2 separate regions of the Homo sapiens genome follow, and region 2 is linked to region 1. Evidence: fine-mapped expression QTL. A gene starts in region 1. The other region holds a variant in brackets. All regions are shown on one strand. Distances are between the middles of the regions.

Region 1 (8,378 bases):
CCGTGTGTGCAGGTTCCCCTGTGTGTGTGGCTTCCCCTGTGTGTAGGTTCCCCTGTGTGTGTAGGTTCCCCTGTGTGTACGTTCCCCTGTGTGTACGTTCCCCTGTGTGTAGGTTCCCCTGTGCGTGTAGGTTCCCCTGTGCGTGTAGGTTCCCCCGTGAGTAGGTTCCCCTGTGCGTGTAGGTTCCCCCGTGTGTAGGTTCCCCTGTGCGTGTCGGTTCCCCCGTGTGTAGGTTCCCCCAAGCGTGTAGGTTCCCCCTTGTGTAGGTTCCCCCGTGTGTGCAGGTTCCCCTGTGTGTGCGGCTTCCCCTGTGCGTGCAGGTTCCCCTGTGTGTAGGTTCCCCTGTGTGTGTAGGTTCCCCTGTGTGTACGTTCCCCTGTGTGTACGTTCCCCTGTGTGTAGGTTCCCCTGTGCGTGTAGGTTCCCCTGTGCGTGTAGGTTCCCCCGTGCGTGTAGGTTCCCCCGTGTGTGCAGGTTCCCCTGTGTGTGTGGCTTCCCCTGTGCGTGCAGGTTCCCCTGTGTGTAGGTTCCCCTGTGTGTGTAGGTTCCCCTGTGTGTACGTTCCCCTGTGTGTACGTTCCCCTGTGTGTAGGTTCCCCCGTGTGTAGGTTCCCCTGTGCGTGTAGTTTCCCCCGTGTGTAGGTTCCCCTGTGCGTATAGGTTCCCCTGTGCGTGTAGGTTCCCCCGTGTGTAGGTTCCCCTGTGCGTGTAGGTTCCCCCGTGTGTAGGTTCCCCTGTGCGTGTGGGTTCCCCCGTGTGTAGGTTCCCCTGTGCGTGTGGGTTCCCCCGTGTGTAGGTTCCCCTGTGCGTGTGGGTTCCCCCATGTGTAAGTTCCCCTGTCCGTGTAGGTTCCCCCATGTGTAGGTTCCCCTGTGTGTGTAGGTTCCCCCGTGTGTAGGTTCCCCTGTGCGTGTAGGTTCCTCCGTGTGTAGGTTCCCCTGTGCGTGTGGGTTCCCCCATGTGTAAGTTCCCCAGTGTGTAGGTTCCCCTGTGCTTGTGGGTTCCCCCGTGTGTAGGTTCTGCTGTGCATGTAGGTTCCCCTGTGTGTACGTTCCCCTAAGCATGTAGGTTCCCCCGTGTGTAGGTTCTCCCATGTGTGCGGGTTCCCCTGTGTGTGCAGCTTCCCCTGTGCTTGCAGGTTCCCCTGTGTGTAGGTTCCCCTGGGTGTAGGTTCCCCCCATACGTGTAGGTTCCCCTGTGTGTAGGTTCCCCTGTGCGTGTAGGTTTCCCCGTGTGTAGGTTCCCTTGTGCGTGTAGGTTCCCTTGTGCGTGTAGGTTCCTCTGTGTTGGGTCCTTAAACATTAACCAGCTCCTTCCTCCCCAGGCCTGGGCAGGATCCCAGCACACAGAGGAAGAAGCGGAGACTCACGTAGGCATCTCCTGGCCCTCCCAGTCTTCCTGACTGTCTCTCCTGGGCCACGCTGGCAAGTGGCCCCAGAGCGGGCCATACACCGTGCTGGCATTAGCACCCCAGGGTGTGCTTAGCCCTGGGCCCGCTCCCTGGCCCCCCTGGGTGGCTTCCCTGTCACAGTGCAGAAGGCTCAGCTCCCCACATGGGGTTCCAGCCTGACCCTCGTATGACTCAAGCCTGAAGATACTTTGCCAAGGGAAGGAATTCAGGTTTCTTCCTGGAGAAACATCCCAGATCACTGAAGGCTTGTAGTTAAAAGTTTTTGTGTATTCAGGGACGCTGTGCTTTGGCAGGGCCCAAGGCAGAGTCCATGGGTGTCCCTAGTCCATGGGTGTCCCTTTCTCTTGAGGCCTCTGGCAGAGGAAAGAAAGCTCAGCTGGTGGCTGCGGGCTCAGGCTGGCGGGGACCCCCCAGCCGTGGCATCTGGGCTGCCTTTGTGTGTCGCTCCCTCACTCTCTGAACAAGTGTTTGTCACTGCCCACCACGTGCCAAGCTCTGCAGAGGGAGACTCGGGTGCCTGCAGCTCGAGTCCACCTGAGCATCACCGGCAGAGCCGAGCCCCTGGAGACTTAGCCAGACACAGCCCCTGCCCCGGGGGAGCACCAGGCGGGTTCTAACCAAGCAGGACTGGAGGCACAAGCGCTAAACAAGGAAGCCATCAGGGCAATCCAAGGACCCCACGTCAAACCAAACAGGATGGTGGAATGACAGCGGGCGGCGCCTAGGGAATGGGGCAAATGAGCGACGTCCCGGAGCCAAACGTGTCGGGCCCTGCAGTGGGGACAGAGGCGGTGGTCGGAGGGTTGCAAAGGGGGTCGGCAGAGCTGCAGCCAAGCCTAGATGAGCCAGAGCTGATGAGGGTGTCGGGGGAGCAGCCGTGTTGACCCGGGTGCGTGGAAGCCCCTGGAGAACTTTGGCAGGGGCGCTGCAGAGGCTGATTTTGCCTTTGAAGGCCTCACCATGCTTGCCATGTGGAGAAGGCTTCGGGAGGCACGCGGCTGCCTGGACCAGGCTGGGGTGGTGGGGAGAGGGGAGGCACGCGGCTGCCTGGACCAGGCTGGGGTCGTGGGGAGAGGTGGACAGATGTGCAGCCCCGTCTGGAGGCGTGCGGCCGGCGTGCGCTGCAGGTTGGCAGTGGAGTGAGGAACGGGGCTATCAAGGGCTCTTGAGGGTTTCACCCAGACAGCTGGTGGACACGGTGCCATCCAGTCAGAGTGCCCCTTGAGACCCGAGTCTGTGCCAGGCGTGGCATAGTTGAGATACTGGTGAGCTGTCCGGCTTGGAGCCTGCAGGGAGGCCAGGTCAGGGGGCAGGGTTGAGAGCAGCCAAACACCCGGATACGGACATCAGCATTTGAGGCCGCCTGACTGTGCCCAGCTGGCAGGACTGAGGCCTGAATCCAGGGAGGGGATGAAACTCCTGGACAAGCCTTGAGTTTGGGGCAGCACACATGTCATCAGTTGTGAGCCGACCTCTTGAGGCTGATGTTGGAACAATAGTGGCCAAGGTCGGGCACGGGCTGGAAGGGCAGGATCTGCAGTCTCAGGACCCCAGAGGGCCCAGGGAGCTGTGTGTGTGCTGGGTCCTTGGGCCTCTTTGCATCAGGAGTTAGGGAGGTGCAAGTATGTGGCTGTAAGCATGGGGACATTGGGGTGGATGTTTTTGTTTTGTTCTTAGAGACAAGGTCTGGCCCTCACCCAGGCTGGAGTGCAGTGGTACGATCGTGGTTCACCGCAGCCTCAAACTCCCAGGTTCCCAGGCGATCCTCCTGCCTCAACCTTCTGAGCAACTGGGACTGTAGGCACGTACCACCACGCTGGCTCATGTTCTTATTTCACTTTCTGTGTCACTGCATTGCCCACCTCAGCCTCTCAAAGTGCTGGGATTACAGGCCTGAGCCCTGGTGCCTGGCTGGCGATGGGGTATTGGTAGAACCAGGCCTTCTTTGCTGGCCGCCCCCGGTCCTCCTGTTCACTCTGCAAAGCCCTGGAGTCTGCCAGCTGCCCCATCCTCACGTCCTCTTCAGCTGCCCAGGTTGGCTGTCCAGCTGCTGGTCTAACCTCCATCCAGGCCTTTCTGACAGTGAGGTTTAGGGGCTACCTTCCCTAGAGGACTGAGACTTGGAGGAGGGCCAGGTGGGGGCTGGGGCCCACTGCAGTGGGGGTGGGGGAGGTGTGTCTGTGTCGCTCAACATCTGCGAGTCCCCCAGGGACATTGCTTAGGAGGGCTGGCGGCTGTGGGAAAGCGGATGCTGTTTATCCCAGGATCAGCAGGAGAGCCGCCAGATAATAAGGGGATGAAGGGCGTGCCAGCAGCCGGGCCCTGATGTGGAGGTCAGCTGTGATCCAGGGACCCAGAACTCGGAGAGGAACTTTAGCAGGGGAGATGGTGTGAAGGAGACACGGCTCAGGGCAAGCGCCAGAGACCAGGAACCACTTTTTTTTTTTTAAATCTTGGGCTGGGGAAGGGGAAATAAAGTCCTTTGCGGTTTCTGAGTCCAGGGTTCCCTAGACACTGTTGCCTTTGTGTGTCCAGAAGCAATTCAGCGGTTTCCAGAGCAGCATGCTTTTGTGTTCCAGGGCTGGCTGGCCCAATTCCGTCCTGCTTGCAGAGAGGGCCTGGAGCCTGGCCGGGCGCCGCCCTGAGCCTGGGGGATCCTGGGAGAACCTGGACAGCCGTGGTGAGCCCTGCTGCCCTGCTCTGGTGCACAGGACTGGAGTCCTCCAGGCTCCAGGGCAGCAGACACCACCCTCTCCGTGCCTGCTGGTGTTGGGCGGCTTGGAGGCTATGGTTCCTGGGTCCTCGTAGCACATCCTGGTTCTGGGCCAGGACCTGAAGGAGCCACAGTGAAAGAGTGTTTCTGGATGTATCTGAGACAGACGGAGGTAGGGGGCAGGGGGCAGGGGGCAGGGGGACATGGTAGGGCCCATCTGAGTGGAAGCCCCAGCCTTGGGAAAAGCTGCTACTCTCTGGGGCAGTGGTCCCAGCTACCACGTGCTCTTCTGGAGCCATCTTGATCTTGAAAGGCAGGCTCCCTCCCAAGGCCGGGTGCAGGCCAGACCCCACCGGTAAAGCACCTGCGCAGCCCGGGGCCAGGGGTCCAGTGAGGAAGGGTGGAGGCCTCCTGAGAACCTGGCCTGGTCAGGAGGGCCGGCAAGAGGAGGAGCCTCCCAGGAAGCCCCTCAGAACCTGACAGGACGAGAGGAAGGGAGGCCGATCTGAGAGGGAGGGAGGCCCATCCGAGAGGGAGGAGGCCGATCTGAGAGGGCCGCATGGCTCGGAGTTGCAGGGGCCCTGGGCTGCCAGGGGTGGGCCTGTAGGTGCAGGTGGAGGGGCTGGTCCTGGGGAGAGCGGCTGGGCTGCAGGCTGAGGAGCTGGGCTTCCTCCAGGGACCGTGGAGGGGGTGGGGATGGGCAGCTAGAAGTGGGGAGGGCAGGGGCCGTCTGGTTGGGGATGCGCGGCTGCAGCACGCAGGACGGAAGGTGCAGGTGAGACGCAGGTGGGCGGTGTCGGGAGACCCGGGTCTGGCCTGAGGTGCAGCCTGGAGCTATGCTCAGTGTGTAGACGGGCCTTGGTTCCTGCATCTGTAAGTTGGGCGTGTGCTGGGTAATAGTGTCCTCCCCCAAAATTCATGTCCACCTCGTACCTGTGGACCCGACCTTACTTGGAAATGGCTCTTTGCAGATGTCACTGAGATGAAGTCACCCTGGTGTACAGTGGAGCACTCTTCAGTGCAGTGCGGGGGCTGCCCATGTGGCCGTGGAGGGCACCCCTACCCCGGTGCAGGCGCAGGCTGGAGGCGTAGCCCGGGCCCATCCCTGGCGGTGTGTCGCGGAGGGCACCCCTACCCCGGTGCAGGCGCAGGCTGGAGGCGTAGCCCGGGCCCATCCCTGGCGGTGTGTCGCGGAGGGCACCCCTACCCCGGTGCAGGCGCAGGCTGGAGGCGTAGCCCGGGCCCATCCCTGGCAGTGTGTCGCGGAGGGCACCCCTACCCCGGTGCAGGCACAGGCTGGAGGCGTAGCCCGGGCCCGTCCCTGGCGCTGTGTCGCGGAGGGCACCCCTACCCCGGTGCAGGCGCAGGCTGGAAGTGTAGCCCGGGCCCATCCCTGGTGGTGAAGGCTGGAAGGTCCATCCCTGGCAGTGTGTGGTGACATGTGTCGTGACATGGAGTTTGATTCTTAACTGACCGAAGCTTGAAAAGTCTGTCTTTTTGATGGACCCAGGGAGTTGGGTGAGGAGGGTGGTGGAGTCAGTGGGGCTGAGAGCAGGGTCGTCTAGGACCCTGATGTGTGGACGCCCTCCCCAAGGGCCGCTGTGAACCATCCAGCAGGATGACCCTGGGTTTGGGGCTGAGCCGGTGGCTGGGAGAGCAGACTGAGGAGTAGCTGGACACTGGCGGGGCACGCATTGCATTCTGATGGTGACAGGCGGGACACTCAGGGCCTTTGTCCCCTCTCTCATTGCCTCATTTGCTTGCCTGAGGTGATTGGGAAGGCAGCCCTGGCCTCGGAATTACAGCCTCCCAGACAAGGGGGCTGTCCTCTGCCCAGAGCCCTGCAGGCAGCCAAGAGTTCTGTGCGTGTCCAAGCGTGTCCCCTGCTTTCCTTGGGTGGAGGCCAGCTCGGTGCCCTACACAGGGCCTGCAGGCCCCAGCGCCCGGGTCATCCCCTCCGCTTCCCTCTCAGCTGCCGCAACCAGGAGGACTCGCCGGGTTTTTGAAAATGGAAGGAAGTAGGTTTTACATTGCTACACTTCCCCTAGCCCGTTCATCCTTCCTTTTTAAACATTAAAAAGCAGTAAAAATGGTGGTTACCGGGGGCTTGGGGAGGGCATGGGAGTTCCTATTCAGTGAGCAGAGTTTCAGTTAGACAAGACGAGTCCGGAGGCAGCCGCTCAGCATCACAGATGTAATTTATGCCACGGAGCTGCACGCTAAAAACTGGTGAAGTTGGGCTGAGCACGGCGGCTCACGCCTGTAATCCCAGCACTTTGGGAGGCCGAGGCGGGTGGATCACGAGGTCAGGAGATTGAGACCATCCTGGCTAACATGGCGAAACTCCGTCTCTACTAAAAATACAAAAAATTAGCTGGTGTGGTGGCGGGTGCCTGTAGTCCCAGCTACTCGGGAGGCTGAGGCAGGAGAATGGCGTGAACCCAGGAGGCGGATCTTGCAGTGAGCCGAGATCACGCCACTGCACTCCAGCCTGGGCGACAGAGCAAGACTCCATCTCTAAAAAAAAAAAAAAAAAAACTGATGAAATTGGTAATATTTATATTATGTGTGTTTTACCGTAATTAAAAAATATTGTGGGAAAAGAAGTAATAGGGAGGCATTTTAGGAGATTTGGAGAGAGAATTGTTAACGACCACCGTAAGCCCATACTCCCGACGTCTGGCCCCATAGCGCCCGAGTCTCTTCACGCACCTGTTTGCCATAACGACAGTCACAGGAAGGTCCCGGTTTTAGTTGCCTTCATCCCTTTACAAGGACGGGGTCCTGTGTGGGTCCACCAGGGTGCTCCAGGACCCCCTGCCCTGCTGGTCTTGATGGATGGTGTGTGACGTGTTTCCCCCCACCAGGCCTCCACTTCTTGAGCTTGGTCCTAGGGTCCTGGTACTGAGTTGTGGGGTGGCCGGTTGAGGGGGCGTCTGTGTGCTTGCTCTGCCGCATTCCGCAGCCCGGGTTAGCTTTAGTTTCCTTTCTTTATTTTATTTTATTTTTTTTGACACAGAGTCTCACGCTGCCCCCCAGGCTGCAGTGCAGTGGTGCAGTCTCGGCTCATTGCAAGCTCCGCCTCCCGGGTTCATGCCATTCTCCTGCCTCAGCCTCCTGAGTAGCTGGGACGCTTGGACTACAGGTGCCCGCCACCTTGCCTGGCTGACTTTTTTGTATTTTTAGTAGAGATGCAGTTTCACCGTGTTAGCCAGGATGGTCTCGATGTCCTGACCTCGTGATCCGCCCGCCCCGGCCTCCCAAAGTGCTGAGATTACAGGCATGAGCCACCATGCCCGGCCTAGTTTCCTTTCTAGTGAGCTTGAAGGTTTTCGCGTATTAGGAAGTGGTCTTGTCATTTTTGCTACATTGACTACATTGTCAAGCTGCCTTTTTTTTTTTTTTTTAAACAGAGTCTTGCTCTGTTGCCCAGGCTGGAGTGCAGTGGCGTGATCTCGGCTCACTGCAACCTCCACCTCCCGGGTTCAAGCAATTCTCCTGCCTCACTCTTCCAAGTAGCTGGGATTGTAGGCGCACATCACCTCGCCCAGCTAATTTTTGTATTTTAAGCAGAGATGGAGGTTCGCCATGTTGACCAGGCTGGTCTCAGACTCCTGACCTCAAGTGATCCACTCACCTCGGCCTCACAAAATGCTGGGATTACAGGTGCCAGCCACCGCACCTGGCCTAGTCAAGTTGTCTTGTAACATGGATATTAATCCTTCATGTATCATATTTGTTACCTGTATTCCTTGTTTTATAGCGTATTTTGACATTTTTTACTTTCTTTTTACAAATGAGAGCTTTTTACTTTTGCCTGGTGGCCTGTTAGACATTTTTACTTAGTGGCTTTTTTTTTTTCAGTCCCTTAATATAGACTCTTCCATCTTCTTCTCTCTAGGGATTTCATAGCTACTAAGTTCCCTCTTCCTTTTTTTTTTTTTTTTTTTTTTTTTCTGAGACGGAGTCTCACTGCCCAGGCTGGAGTGCAATAGTGTGATCTTGGCTCACTGCAAGCTCCGCCTCCCGGGTTCAAGCAATTCCTCTGCCTCCGTCTCCTGAGTAGCTGGGACTACAGGTGCCCGCCACCACACCCAGCTAATTTTTGTATTTTTAGTAGAGACAGGGTTTCACCATGTTGGCCAGATGGTCTCGAACTCCTGCCCTCGTGATCCGCCTACCTTGGCCTCCCAAAGTGCTGGGATTACAGGCGTGAACCACTGCTCCCAGCTGTTCTCTTTTCTTTTAAGGTTT
Region 2 (8,251 bases), 28 kb before region 1:
TAAACCGGACATCTAGAGCTGTGACTCAGGATAGGCAGGCCCTGGGGGGTCACCCCCAGCCACCCCATCTGCTTTGAGAACCTAGGAGCATGGGAGAAGCCAGGTAACCCCAGTGACTGCCCAGCGTCCCCCACAACCCGATGGATGAGGAGCCAGTAGGTCAGGAGGGGCAGAGCTGAGGTCAGCACACCTCCGTCCCTGTCTGGCTGTCCGTCTTCCATCCCTCCAGGCAGCACCACGCAAGGGCAGGGAGGTGGCAGGCCTGCTGAGCTCTGTGGATGTGGGGCAGACCCGGCTGGCTTGTTGGAGCACCCTCCCCGGGCGAGTGCTGTTCATATTGGTATCTGCGGAGTGGGTCAAACCACTACAGAGGGCAAGAGGGGAGCTGTGGCCTCTGGCCAGCCACGTTCTAAGCTTTTACAAGGCCCCACCCTGTCCCTCGCAGTCTTAGCCATCAGCTGCCTTTGGAGAATGAGCGATCTGAAGATGTTCCTGGCTGGGGGGCAGGGGTGGCCAGTGCTCCTGGAGCTGCGGGGTGCCCACCCTTTCGTCCGTCCTCCTTCCCCGGCCTGATCCAGGAGCCCCAGCACCGCCCTCTCCATCCCCGGGGTCCTTAGGCTTCCCTGACACAGGTCTCAGGAGGGCATGTGACACTGGCGTCGGTCCGGGCTGGGCAGAGCCTGGATGTGGCCCAGGCTGGGCTGGGCTGGAGCCGAAGCCTTTCTTCTCAGGTCCTGTCATAGCTGTGGGGCCTGGGGCTGGTGACCCAGCCTCTGCCAGCGTCTCCCCACCCCCTCCCACAGTAAGGTTGGTGACAGCAGAGTTCTCTTAAACATTTGAGATGTCCTGTGCTGGCCCGTGGCAGTGCAACCACAGCTCGTAACTGTGGCGCTGGGCAGAGGGCTGGGTACGCAGCAGGTGCTTCGTCAGTACTGATGGGAGAAGCAGGGACGGCAGGGGGCGGGGGGACCTGGATGGGCGACACTCCCCAGCCTGCTGGTGCTCCAGGGAGGACCTTTTCAGAGCTGGGAGACCCTGGCTCAGTGTCCTTGTCCCTCCAGTCGCTGCTGCCTTCCCGAAAGCCCTGGAGCCTTGTTAAAGAGGGCAGCCCTGGCTCTTGGGGGGAGTCCTGGGTTTGGGGGCGGCTCTGATATGGGGGAGCCGTGGGTGTGGGGGCAGCTCTGATATGTGGGGGAGCCCTGGGTGTGGGGGCAGCTCTGATATGTGGGGGAGTCCTGGGTGTGGGGGCAGCTCTGATATGGGGGAGCCGTGGGTGTGAGGGCTGTGCCTCACGTGGCCCGAGGGCAGATGGCCCAGTGTGGGGCTGGGCTGTTTGGGGGGATGGGGAGGGCTGCCCAGGGAGAAGGTGAGTGGGTGGCCCTATTATCTGAAGACCTGCTGGGGCCAGGGGATGTGGGGGGTGGCTGCCACCTCTGCAGTGACCCTGGAAGGGCCCATGCTGCCCCTGCTTTGCAGGTGAGTAAGCGGGTGTCTGAGAGTTCCCAGCTCTGCCTGCAGGGCCCATGCCCTGTGGCTACCCCCCAGTCCCGCTCTGTTTGCTTTATTTAAGTATTTTGGAAGATCACTCCTCAGCCTCATGGGGTGGATCCTTAACTCTTCTGGCCCAGCCCACTCCTCAGGTTTCTAGGTGACCCACCTGCTTTGTGTGCACCCTGAGGCCTGCTGCACTGCCAGGACCTCAGCCCCTGCCCTGCTCCCCAGCAGCCTGACTGCCTCCCCTCCCTCAGCCCCTCAGAGAGGCCTCCTGTCAACACCCTTTCTGCAGCTTTCTCCCTACCCCTTCAGCCAGCTCCCCTCGTGGCCCTCCCTGCTGCCTGGTTCCTGCGGCATGTATTGGTGGGGAGGCCGTGTCGCCTCCTGTAACTCCCACGGCAGTCTTGCAGGATGGGTCCTGGCCTGGTTGGGAGCCCTGAGTCTGGTTGATTCCTGCCTACTGTTGGCCCGGGTGGGCAGAGCCGTGGCAGTCAGGAGAGCCTTGGCCTGGGGGGCCAGAGCCCTGCCCCCACATCTACACCAGCTACTGGGCCGCCTGGACAGCCCTGTGCCCTGCGTGCCTCCTGCGTCCAGAGGGGCGGAGCTGGGAGTCTGACTGTGACAGCTCTGGGGCCACATGGATGGCCCTCGGCCTGATTCCTCTTGGTGGGAGGCTTTGATTGGGAAGCTGGGGGAAGGTGGCTAGTGGGTGGGGTTCGGGAGTACTGGGGACCTCTCCCAGTGTCCTTCCTCCAGCCAGTCCTTGGCAGAGAGCTGAGAAGGTGCCGGGGATGGGTGAGCGCTCCACTAACCCCGAGGGCTGGGATTGGCCAGGAGCGCGTCCCAAGGAGGAGGTGACCTGGGCCACTGTGTGTGTGACCAGGCCTGGGCTGCTGCCGTTAACACCCAGTCAGCTGGTGTCTGCCTGTTGCTCGTGACTGGCCTGGTTTGGTGGCCTGGTAGAGGGGAATGGGAGGGGAGAAACCCGGGCTGGGCCCAGGTGAGTGTCAACAGGGGAGGGAGAGAGCAGCAGAGGTCCCGCCAGGGCGTGCTTGGGTGAGGGGAGGAGGAGCTCAGAGAGATTGGGGGAGAGTCCACAGTGTTGTCTGAGGACAGCTAAGGACGATGGACACTACTAGTTTATAAAAACAGCCAGAGGCCGGGCACACTGGCTCATGCCTGTAATCCCAACACTTTGGGAGGCCGAGGCAGGTGGATTGTCTGTGGTCGGGAGTCTGAGACCAGCCTGGCCAAGATGGTGAAACTCTGTCTCTACTAAAAATACAAAAATTAGCCAGCATGGTGGTGGGTGCCTGTAATCCCAGCTACTCAGGAGGCTGTGGGATGAAAATTGCACGAACCTGGGAGGCGGAGATTGCAGTAAGCCAAGATCGTGCCACCGGACTCCAGCCTGGGTGATAGAGCAAGACTCTGTCTAAAAAGAAAAAGAAAAAAAAACAAACAAACCCAAAAAACAGCCAGAGAAGGCAAGAGCCCTGGAATGGCCTAAGGTGGGAAACTGCTGCCCTCTCAGCCGCGGGGTCCAGTGTGTGATAGTGAAATCTCTCGTTATCTTAAATTCTCTCTTCAGGGACTTAAACAGAAATTAACAGGGCTGGGTGCAGTGGCTCATGCCTGTAGTCCCAGCACTTTGAGAGGCTGAGAGGGGGAGGATTGCGTGAGCTCAGGAGTTTGAGAACGGCCTGGGCAACATAGTGAGACTCCATCTCTACTAAAAATAAAAAATTAGCTGGGTGTGGTGGTGCATGTCGTAGTCCCAGCTCCTTGGGAGGCTGAGGTGGGAGTTGGGGTTTGTTGTTTTGGACAGATTTACCAAATTCATTTGGACGACGTTACTGAAGCTCCATGAGGCAGAGGCTAACGGACATTGCTGAAGTCCTAGGTTGCATCCCTCATAAAGGCCACCCCCGGGCCGTGCACGGTGCCTCACGCCTGTAATCCCAGCACTTTGGGAGGCTGAGGCAGGTGGAATACCAGAGGTCAGTAGTTGGAGACCAGTCTGGCCAACATGGCAAAACCCTGTCTCTACTAAAAATAAAAATTAGCCGGGTGTGGTGGTGGGTGCCTGTAATCCCAGCTACTCTGGAGGTTGAGGCACGAGAATCGTTTGAACTCGGGAGACGGAGGTTGCAGTGAGCCAAGATCAAGCCACTGCACTCCAGCCTGGGTGACAGAGCGAGACTCTGTCTCAAAAAAAAAAAAAAAAAAAACCCAGAAAGGCCAACCCCCGCACCCCTCAGCCCCCGCACCCCTCAGTTAGCCATGCCCAGGGACAGTCAGAAAGCATCTGTGATATCAGTGGACATTGGGGCCCAGCCCAGGACTGGTGTGTCCCCTCCTGTGCCTGCAGGCTTGACACAGCAAGGCCCTCCCTCTCGCCCCCAAGTCCCCACACTTGTCAAGGGCATCACGGCACATTCCAGGAAAGTTGGTTGATGTCACGGGAGTCGAGACCTCATCCTGACGCCCAGCTCAGCAGGGCCACCGGGGCTCAGGTTAGGTGGTGCCATAGTTGGGGGACAGTCCCCATAGGGTTGCGCCCCCAGAGTGCCCTAGGGAATGAGGCCCACTGCTACTGCCACCAGCCCAGCTGGCATAATTGATAAATAAGTGTGGTTCTTTTAAGTTGGGCAAGTGTGTATTTTTAAATAACTGACTGCTTAATTGTACGATTAAAAACAGCAGAGCTGGGTGCAGGGGTGCGTGTCTGTGGTCCCAGCTCCTTGGGAGGCTAAGGCGGGAGGATCCATAGAGCCCAGGAGTTTGAAGCCAGCCTGGGAAACATAGGGAGGAGGCCCTGTTTCCAAAAAAAAAAAAAAGGATGAAGTGGGCTGTTAGCACTGAGTCATGGCGAGCAAGGTGAAGAAGCCCCACTGTGGCTGTGTGGTGAACTCAGTCATTCACAGCCGGGAGGGGCTCGATTCAGTTACTTTCCTGAATGTTTTCACTGTTCCGACTGCACCAGGGAGGAACCACATCCTCTACGCCTGCAGAAGCAAAATTTCTCTCCCGAGAGTCTTGGAATTCTGCGGCCCACATGTATGGTGACCAGCTCTGCAAGGGGCTTTAAAAACCCCAGTGTCGGCTGATTTGTTGGCTGACACCGCGCCCGGCACCTCCAGGATGTGGCCGGCATCGTGGAGGGGCTGCTGGCTGCCTGCCTTGCTTTCAGTTCCACATGGAGACAATGACTCTGCTGCACTGAGTTTCAAGAATTTTGGCAATAAAAAGAGCCTATATGACCTATTTATGAAGTATTCCAGAATCACTTACATGAATATTTTGTCCTAAATTCTGTATAATTAGAAGATATAAACCCCACATTGTGATTATTTTTGTTCACCAACATAACCTAAATTAGAACTCTCCATGCGGGCTTTCAGAAAAGAAAGCATTTGAACAAAAACATAAAAGGAA[T/G]TGGTTTTATCCACACCGTTCTCAAATACTTGAGAGTAACGTGTTTGCTTAAGTAACATCGATATCTTGTTTACTGTTATTTGATTTGCAGACCTTTCCTCTTTACCAGTACCAGTAGCAGAAAGGTAAATTGTACTGAAACGTTTAAAAAGTCGTAAGTTCTGACTTTGAGGCCTGATGAACCATCACGGGATTCTCCCCTGCCTGGTTCCTTTTCCCCGGAACCTCACATCAAGCAGAAGCTTCCTTGCGGGCGGCCCTTGTTGCAGGCGGTCTTGGCGAGAGACATCCCCATTTCTGCAGCTGGACGGTGAAAGGGACGTTGTTGTTCTTGGCCATTTGGCAGGTGTTCTCTGACTGCCTCTTCTCCGCTGGGCCTGCCGCACAGGGAGGGCAGGTGGGACCGCCCCCCAACCCCTGCCGCAGGGCCTACCGAGAGTCCCATGGCGGGCGGGCAGAGGTGGGCTAGTGTTGCATTAAGTGACTTCCCGTAGCAGGCTGTTCAGTGCTGGGGCAGCCTTCTAAGGGAGGAGGCTTGTGGGCTGAGACCTCTTCCCTTTTTCATCATTTGGGCTTCCGGGGCATAGAATGGGATGCGTCATTGGCCTGGGGTCTGTGCTGCTGTTGGGCGTCTGTGCATAGTCCTCTTTTGTCTATTTTCATTATTTTTATTTATTTTTTTGAGATGGAGTCTTGCTCAGTCACCCAGGCTGGAGTGCAGTGGCGCGATCTCAGCTCACTGCAACCTCTGCCTCCTGGGTTCAAGTAATTCTCCTGCTTCAGCCTCCCAAGTAGCTGGGATTACAGGCGTGCACCACCACCCTGGGCTAATTTTTGTATTTTTTTAGTAGAGATGGGGTTTCATCATGTTGGCAGGATAGTCTTGAACTCCTGACCTCAGGTGATCTGCCCGCCTCGGCCTCCCAAAGTGCTAGGATTATAGGCGTGAGCCACCTCACCCAGCCATATTTTCGTTATTTTTAATAATGTAATGGGAACCTCTGGGCTCACCGTCAAGCAGAAGCCAGCCTTGATACCCAGCATCCTGCCAGCCCCTCCCCAGCATCCTGCCAGCCCCACCCCAGCATCCCGCCAGCCCCTCCCCAGCTGCCCCACGCCCGGCTCCTGCCCCAGCTCTGTGTGTCCTGTGCTCTCCCTTCCCCACCACCCTATGCACACCTTTCTCTGCCTGGGTCCACACTGTCACCTGCTGTAGCTCTACCCACAGGCCATACCTGCCTGGTGGGCCCCTCCTCCCTGCCCCTGTTTTTGTGGAAGGACAGGTGGAAGTGGGCGGGTGGGGTGGGTATGGTGGGTGATGATAAAGAGCATTCTAGGCCAGGGCAGGAATGCAAGCACATGGGTGTGAGGGGCCAGGTGTGTTCAGGGATCCTTGGCACTTGTGGGGTGGCGGGAGCACTGGCCAGAGGAGGGCTGGGGTAGGGGGAGGCTCCTGGCCCTCTGGGGGGCCCTTGGTAGAGGAAGGGGCATTGCTTGTGTGGGTGGTGAGGGACCTCTGGTTGGGTGGGGGGGGTTAGGTGTTTTAGGAGGCTTTGGGTACAGAGATGTCCAGGGGTAAAGTGGAGCTTGGTCTCAGGACAGTTGGCCCTGGCATCTGTCCTGCCCTGGGGGGCTAGGAGGGCCGGACTGGAGATGGAGGCTGGGGCTGTCCTGGTCCCAGGTGAGGTGGCATCTCCTAGGAGGGAGGAGAGGGTTGGTGCCCTGCAAACCCTGGGGGAGGGGCAGCACGGGGAGCTGGGGTTGGGGGTGAGGAGGGGCGCCCCACATGTTCTGAAGCGCTCTGGAGTGGCTCCAGCCCGGCCAGCACTAAGTTTTGCTGTCTGTGGTTTGCTGTGCCTGTGTCCGCTGCTGGTAACCAGTGCATCGGGACTTGGGCTTTCTGACTGCACCAGGTTTGTTTCTGCTGCTCTGAGTGCGGTGCCCAGTCACCGAGGTACCTGTCGTTCCCGCCTCCTGTGGACTGCGTGGCCTGGCGTCGAGGCAAAGCAGCAGGAAAGTTGGGTCCGCATCCCAGCCCCACATGCGGCCCGGGGGGAGAGTGTGCCTTTCCCCTGGAGACACACAGGGTGGGGGAAGTGAAGTCAGTGGCAGGCACCCAAGAGGGGCACGTTTTCAATCCCAGGGTGGGCGTGGGTACTAACTACAGGTAGAGACCATGCGACGCAGCGGGTCTGCACGCCTCAGGGTTCTGGAACAATCCAGACGGGGACATGGGGGAGATTGGCCACTGGGACTGGTGTTTCACTTGGCTGCCTCTGGACATAGTGTCTCTTCCGACTTTATTTTCCTGGGTTGTGAATCTCCCTTTTATGCCACAAAGGTCCCCCACCCAAGGGACTCTCATCCTGCAGCCCATGGGCCTGGCCCTGTGTCTGGAAAGGGGAGGTGGCGCCCTGATGTTCTGGGCCTGGTGGTCAGTATGGGCACAGAGGTGCAGGGGTAGAGGATTCCACATTTTGAGAGAAAAACAGGCGCCCCTCAAGGCAGCTCAGCCCTAGGTGAGGTTGGCTTTGGGCACACCCATGGGAGGCCCCTCTTCCTGCCCTGAACCCTCTGAGCGTCACCCCTCCCACCCAGCCACCAGAACAGCCTTTCCAGCTGCCCCTCCAAGTCATCGCAGGGACCCCTGCGGCCGGTCAGGGGGCCAAGATGGGGACACCCAGAGAACCACAAGCCCAGGCCACACAGGCAGGTGACTGCATGGGCAGGTGAGCACCCCATCTGACAGGTGCCAGGGTGAAACACGACTTGTCCAGATCCCCGGCCTTAACACCCAGTGCTGTTTCTGTACCCTGGCCACCTTCCCAGCTTACCCAGGGAGGCTGAGGAGTGGGTGCACAGGAGGAGTGGGAGCTGGCCGAGGGGCTTGCAGAGGGTCAGAAAGAATCTGCTATCCTGGTGGGACAAGCACCCAGACCCTGGATGCTCTCCGTGCTGGAAGCGTTGCTTCAGTGCATTAGGATGGGTTCACTTTCTCGTAATTCACTCTGAGGACACGTTGTTGGAATCATTGTGCATAGTTCTGGATCAGCACCATGACGGGAGGTCAGAGGGCTGCCTGGCGCAGTTTCTCTGCTGCCTGGATTGACCATGAGGACAAGGACTAGCTGTGCCCAGCCCCCTGCTTCCCGTGGATAGGGACTCTGGCTGCTGGCTCGTGCCATCGGGGCTGGAGTCTTAACTGGTGAAATCACATTTATGAGGCTGATAGCCATCAGTTTCCACAGACGTAAGTGTGGCCAGGATGACAGATGTCCCTGGCGGCCCTTTCTGCAGGGTCCTGCAGGGACTCCAGGGC

Evidence for each region. PIP is the estimated chance that this variant, and not a neighbour inherited with it, causes the effect.
Region 2: its variant is fine-mapped to the expression of GRAMD4 in whole blood (TOPMed, PIP above 0.99).

The regions. Positions count from the first base shown.
Region 1 is chr22:46,616,270-46,624,647 of GRCh38, forward strand. GRAMD4 (GRAM domain containing 4) reads left to right here and starts at 4,117. Exons shown (of 19, transcript NM_015124.5): 1 at 4,117-4,296. RefSeq lists enhancers at 2,149-2,916, 5,345-5,856.
Region 2 is chr22:46,588,128-46,596,378 of GRCh38, forward strand. It overlaps a transcript of GRAMD4 not described here. Among named protein-coding and RNA genes, the nearest start is that of GRAMD4, 28 kb to the right of the region's middle. RefSeq lists silencers at 1-48, 5,376-5,435. The variant T/G (reference allele first, on the strand shown) is at 4,933.